Linked DNA regions of Homo sapiens. The protein of the gene in region 1 interacts with the protein of each later gene in a pairwise test. Each region holds a gene or a part of one and is shown in the gene's direction. Other genes may lie near its edges.

Region 1 (3,826 bases):
TAAGTAAAAAATGCAAAGCTTCTGGATTAGTGAACAAGCATACTTTATCAAGTGCCTACATGTGTTGAACATTTTAAAAATTATTTCATTTAACATTCACCAAATCCTAGAATTAAAAATTACACATTGTATTTCTGTACCTTTTAGGTGAAATAAAAAACGGTCCATAGTGGTTACATAATTTGCTGAAGGCTATATAGTTGTGGGTAAAGATGGGATTTGAATCTGTTTGACCAACTCAGAATCTTATTTATTTTTTTCCAACATCCCAGTACTGTAGGTCATAGTTTTTCTCCCCATTACAAATTATTATGAAAGATTTATTTTCTTAGGTCATGAAAACATTTCTTGTAAGAGGGAAATGAAGAGGTAAAACACTCTTATTTATAGAAAATTGGAGTTTATTCATTTCTCCCACCAAATGCTGAAGCCACACTTAAATGTAATCAAATACATTACTGGAATATATGAGCTCTCTGATCAGATCCCATTTATAATTTGTCACAAAACTACCATTTCATTTCAAATAACCATCATAAATGTTATTCAGAAGTGGATTGTTTATGTCATGGTAGCAAAACAACCATCACTTGCTCATGCAGTTTCCTCTGAGCAGCAGGTTGACTCTGCAGGGCAGCTGTCCTTCATGCAGTGATTCAGATGCTTTTATCTTTTATTTTTTTCAATATTTTATTTTATGTTTTATTGTAAAATATGCACACCATAAACTTTGCCATTTTAAGTGTGAAATTCAGTGGCATTAACTACATTTACATTGCCAAGCAAGCTTCACCACTGTCCATCTCCAGAACTTTTTCATCATCCCAAATTGAAACTCTGTACGTATAGGTCATAGTTTTGTTATATGACCATATTTCTCCACTCTGAAGAACTTTCTGATGTATTTATGGAAAGTAATATATATTTAAAAGTCATGCTTAATTTGTTAACAGTTGGCAACTTGAATAGTTTCTTATTACCACAAAGCACAGCATTGCAAAGCAATTTTACCCTCTTATACCCTGAGTATAAATGGGACCATCTAGTAAACATTGGTCTTATCTTTTCCACATCTTATTATTTTTAAACCCTTACTTCATTATCAGATATAGGTTATCTTCCCATTTTGAACCTAGGTTTTGATAGTACTTTCTTATTCCCCATTGCTTTTGTTTCATGTTAAAATGGAAATAAATGATATCAGCATCAGAAATTCCTGTATATTTTAAAGATGGTATATTCCACTTCATACTTGAGAGCATGCCTTTGTGTCATTAAGATCTCAATACCAAGTTTCACTAAAGTAGGCTCCTTGGCCGGGCACGGTGGCTCACGCCTGTAATCCCAGCACTTTGGGAGGCCGAGATGAGTGGATCACCTGTGGTCAAGAGTTCGAGACCAGCCTGGCCAACATGGTGAAACCCCATCTCTACTAAAATTACAAAAATTAGCCGGGCACAGTGGTACATGCCTGTAATCCTGGCTACTTGGGAGGCTGAGGCAGGAGAATCACTTGAACTCGGGAGGCAGAGGTTGCAGTGAGCCAAGATCTCACCACTGCACTCCAGCCTGGGCAGCAGAGTGAGACTTCATCTCAAAAAACAAAAAAAAACTTGCTCCTCTATCCTTATCTCTTTTCCAAGTTTATAGTAGCATAAAAAAATTCAAATGTACCAGGGAATGAAGAACAGTTGAAAAATTCTAGGCTAGAAATATTGAAAAAATATGCCTAAAATTAACCAGGAAGTATTTACCATACCATTTTCAAAGACATGTATTTTTTCCAGATGAGACTTGAAATCATACTTCACAATATTTAGTATGTTGTCATTTGATATTCTAATGTGTAATCTGTTTATATTTTTAACCCTAGCTCTCCTAATTTCTTTCTTAATTAGATTGAAAGATAAAAGACCATCTGCCATGAATTTTGTACATTTATCATTGGGGAAAACTCAACTGTTGTACCTAAATCATAACCAAAATACTAATTTTGCAGAAAAATTTCTTTTTAACTCTAGTTGCAATTATTAAAATATTACACTTGGTAATAGAAATGCCTCATAGATCTTTACAAAGAGATATTTTGGAGAGAACCAGCTTTAGGGTTAGGACATAGACAAGAAAATAAAGATAATGGAAGATTAAGAGAAGAAATATTGGGACCCTTTGATTTTTTAGGCCCTTAAAGGTTTGTGTTAACTGTATAGCTGCTTAAAACTTTAAATCATCTTCTGTGCTTCGTATTTGGAAGCAGCTAGGTGTTTGGGTCCTCTGTAAGTACCCCACCAAAATTTTGCTTCCGTATATATTCCAATCTAAAATATATTTTTTCATTGATCACCATCAACCCATATAAAGTCAGGTAGAAACAGAAATCTGAAAGGCTGTGATATGTTCTTAGTCACACAGCTAGTTAATAGCAGGGTGAAAACTAATGCAGTCTCTCTCATCCTAATGCTTTTTACAACTCTTACTATTGGAATTAAGAATCAGTATAAACCCACACTTAACAACCAACCAATAAAAATAGATTTATTTCATATTCTAATCAGTTAAGGAAGAGAAAAGACATGGTGAGAGTATAAAGAAGAGAAGAGAGGAAGATGCCCCCAAGTTTCTTCAGCTATCCCTTGGTTCCCATTTCTACTAGAATCAGCTCCTAAGTCCCAATTCTATGCCAGAACAGTTTTATTCCTGGCAGGTAGTGAGTTCTCAGTAAGCATTAGTTCCTGTCCCAGTCATCTTCCTCACAGTCAACATTATCTGCTCACCTATCCTCTAATTGAACATCTGCTCCCTGAGGCTGGCCTTTCCTCTAAGCTGTCACCCTGAAACAGGCTGAAAGACATCTGTATTGTCACCAGTTTCCTCTCGACTTCCAGAATTGGCTATTGGTCATTTTTTTCTGGGAGTCCAAAAATCATGTCTCAAATAGTGGGGGTTGGGGGTCGGGTGGATCGAAAGAAACATTTAGCATCTCTTGTGAATCAGACATATGTTTCTTACATATGTCAAGCCTGGAGATCAAGTCTCTTTTTAAGATTAGCCTTGCCTGTAATCCCAGCACTTTGGGAGGCCAAGGCAGGCGGATCACCTGAGGTCAGAAGTTTAAGACCAGCCTGGCCAACATAATGAAATCCCGTCTCTACTAAAAATACAAAAATTAGTCGGGCATGGTGGTGCACGCCTGTAGTCCAGCTACTTGGGAGGCTGAGGCAGAAGAATCACTTGAACCCCGGAGGCAGAGGTTGCAGTGAGCCAAGATCACACCACTGCACTCCAGCCTGGATGACATAGCAAGATTCCATCTCAGGAAAAAAAAAAAAAGGCCTAGCCTTTCTAAGAGTGAGCTCAGGGAAATCTTGGGCAGACTTAGATTTGAATCCTGGCTTTGACACTTATCAACTGTGTGACTTTGGGCAAACTGTTTAACCTCTCCAAGTCTTAGGTATGACTTTTAGAAAGTGGACATCATCAAATTCATGTCAAATTTAGAGGAAATGCAACCTGAGGAGAATGTGGCAGTGTACAGTAGCCTCTGGAAAACAACACCCATTTTATAAATTTGTTCTCAGTGGAAACCCCTCTTCCATGAGCCTCCTGGTGGCAGATTCTAGAAGATCCAAAAAGATCTTGAAAGCCTGGAAATGGTTGTTTGACTCTAAGAAGGTGAAACTTAAAATAAAAAATATAAGTATATATTAGATCTGTTTGGGATCCAATAGAATTTCTATCTAACTATGTCCTAGAGGGATATATTTTAACCAGTTCTAGATCAAAAAGAACCACGTATTTAATCGAAAGTTAGCTGAGCATGAGTCAA
Region 2 (3,258 bases), on another chromosome or scaffold:
TCCTTCTTTGCTGAGAAGGGCTGTTTTCTGCTCATCCTGGATCTTGGGGGCTTCAGATATGTCTAAGAGCAGAAAAGCTTTTCCCATTGCCACTGGGTCACAAAATAGCCGAAAAGTAGACAAAAAATAGAGTCAGAACTGCCTTAAAGAGATGGAAATGCACTATTAGAGAGCCAGCTTTGTTTTGGCAAGAGCATAGAACACAGAAGAGGAGTGTATCGGGCAGAATGTTCTTTTTTCTGCTTCCAGGAAGTGTCACACACTGTGCTTGCTTGGAGAATCCCGAAACCCTGCAGGAGAATACTGTTGCCTGCTCCTATCTCATTATGCACCCAGTGCACAAACATGTGCATACTGACTGACTTCAGCACATGAAGGGGCTTGGTAGTCATTCAAATGTCATCTTTCTTTGGTGCAGACCTGGCTGACCAGGGCTCTTATTCAAATTATTGACCTTTGCCTGTACCTAGCTCTGGGCTCACTTATGAACCAGGGTCTTACAGTAACACCAGCCCTGTGGGGGGGATCTTGTAATAGTTCAAATACTGGCATATTGGCTAGGCGTGGTGGTTCACGCCTGTATTTCTAACTGCTCAGGAAACTGGCAGGAGGAGTCTTTGAGTCCAAGAGCTCAAGGCTGCAGTTAGCCATGATTGTGTCACTGTACTCTAGCTTGGGTGACAGAGCGAAACCCCATCTCTTTTTTTTCCCTTTTTTTTTTTTTTGAGACAGGATCTCACTCTGTCACCCAGGCTTAAGTACAGTGGTGCGATCACGGCTCACTGCAGCCTTGACCTCCCAGGCCCAAGGAATCCTCCCACCTCAGCCTCCCTGGTAGCTGGGATCACAGATGTGCACCATCACACGACTAATTTTTTTGATTTTCAGTGGAGATGAGGTCTGGCTATGTTGCCCAGGCTGGTCTTCAACTCTTGGGCTCAAACAATTCTCCCACCTCCGCCTCCCAAAGTTCTCGGATTACAGGCGTGAGCCACCATGCCTGGTCTTCCTTTTTTAAAAAAAGATAAATATTGTAGAAGAGACCCTGTATCTTAGCTAATAATAATAATAATAATAATAATAATAAAATCCCCCAAAGAGTATCAGTCTCTTTATCTAGAGAAGAAATGACAATAGCCGTTTTTTTTGTTTTTTTTGTTTTTTTGTTTTTTTGTTTTTGAGATGGGAGTCTCGCTCTGTTGCCGAGGCTGGAGTGCAGTGGTGCAATCTCGGCTCACTGCAAGCTCCACCTTCTGGGTTCACACCATTCTCCTGTCTCAGCCTCCCGATTAGCTGGGACTACAGGAGCCCGCCACCACACCCGGCTATTTTTTGTGTTTTTAGTAGAGACGGGGTTTCACCATATTGGCCAGGATGGTCTCAATCTCCTGACCTCGTGATCCACCCGCCTCGGCCTTCCAAAGTGCTGGGATTACAGGCATCAGCCACTGCGCCTGGCCGGCCTTGCTTTTTAGAGACAGTTGAGATGAGAGAAGACTTGGTAAGGGCAAACGGGCGTGCATGCCAGTTCTTTGGGTCCTGGACCACCTTTGAAAATATGCAAAGCTCTGTACACTCTCAGAGAATTATGCATATATGCAGAGTTTGGTTTATAGTTTTCTGTACTTCACTGTCTCTGAGGGCAGTCTTTTTGCCCTGTGTTAGCCTTGGATTAGAGGGTAACAACAATCATGTAAGGCTGTGGTTCTCAAGTGTGGTGTTAGAAGTGCTCATCATCAGGTTCCACCTCAGAAACAGATTGGGACCCAGCTATCTGTGTTTTAAGAAGCTTTCCAGATGATTTTTGCCACACTTTAGGGAGAGTCCCCTGATGAAATTTATACTCCTGTGTGGTCCTTATGCTTCACACATCCCATATTGTACCTTTGAGAGACCACCTGCCATCCTCTTGTTGTGACAGTACTCTATTCCTCCTAGGCTATGTCTTGCCCAGCCACGTGACTGAGGAGATGCTATGGGAGTGCAAGCAGCTTGGGGCTCACTCCCCCTCCACCTTGCTGACCACCCTCATGTTCTTTAATACCAAGTAAGTGTTCTAGAGGCTCCACTGCTGGCATCTGTCCAGTGAAGAGTGTGGAAGCTATCCAAGAGGCCTTCTGAATTCCTCTGACATATATTTGAGAAACTGGGCTACTGAAAGCCCTAACCCCACTTGGCTGCATTTTATTTGGTAACCAGTGAGGCAAACACCCTTGCCAGACCCCTACCATCCATCTTGATGTGGTTCCTGCACTGGACACTGCTTGGGTACGGGCCTGCCCAGATCTTGGGAATGTGGGCAGTGGCTCCTCTGAAGCACCAGTGGGCAGAGGATGAGTCATGGTATCCTCCCGGCACCCCTCCCTCTGCCTTGCATTTTACTTGTGATCCAGGTACTTCCTATTGAAGACAGTGGACCAGCACATGAAGCTGGCCTTCTCCAAGGTCTTGCGACAGACAAAGAAGAACCCCTCTAATCCCAAGGATAAAAGCACGAGTATCCGGTACTTGAAGGCCCTTGGAATACACCAGACTGGCCAGAAAGGTAGGGAAAGGAGGCAGGGATGGCAAAAACAGGTGCTACTTGTCCTGCCCTGTCCTGCCCTTGTGCCTGTGAGGCTAGTGATAAGTGTAAAGGTTGGGATTTGCTGGATAAAATTCTCCACTCCCTTCTCCCCAGCCAAAAATTCCAAACTTTCCTCCTAGAAGCAGAGAAGCCCCAGACAGAATAGCTGCCTCTTCCCTTAGTAGTCACTGCCCATGCCTCATACCTTCCCTCCCCCGACCCTGTATTTCCTAGTTGGGCTGGCTGAAAGCCTAAGTTTCCTGATCTGGGCCTGAGGTAAGGCAGTCTGATGCCAGGTCTGTGGTGGTGGGGATGTGTGTTTTATAGTTACAGATGACATGTATGCAGAACAGACGGAAAATCCAGAGAATCCATTGAGATGTCCCATCAAGCTCTATGATTTCTACCTCTTCAAATGGTGAGGCTTTATTGTGACTTGCTGTCCATGTGTGCGCATGTGTGTGTATGCGTGTGCATGCTCACTTGTGTGATCACTTATCATAGGGGAGAGGCATTCTCTAGTCCCAAACCAAGTAAAAACACTTCCAGAAAGCTAAATTTAGAAGCAGCCTTGCTCTGGCTTTCCAAAGGTGTGTGATGTGCCTAGCACTGATAGAAAAAGGGGTCCCGGGTCCCTACAGTCACCTTTCATGAAAAGGGTATGAAGGTACAGAGAATCTACCTTCATCACA

What was found.
Region 2: the proteins of ZMAT1 (region 1) and QRICH1 interact in a two-hybrid assay, tested with the Homo sapiens proteins (one large-scale study listed by BioGRID).

Annotation. Positions count from the first base shown.
Region 1 is NC_000023.11:101,921,900-101,925,725, reverse strand, and holds part of ZMAT1 (zinc finger matrin-type protein 1), read left to right. Parts: intron 1-3,826.
Region 2 is NC_000003.12:49,031,909-49,035,166, reverse strand, and holds part of QRICH1 (transcriptional regulator QRICH1), read left to right. Parts: intron 1-1,938; coding exon 1,939-2,047; intron 2,048-2,393; coding exon 2,394-2,545; intron 2,546-2,893; coding exon 2,894-2,984; intron 2,985-3,258. UniProt on the Homo sapiens protein: Transcriptional regulator that acts as a mediator of the integrated stress response (ISR) through transcriptional control of protein homeostasis under conditions of ER stress.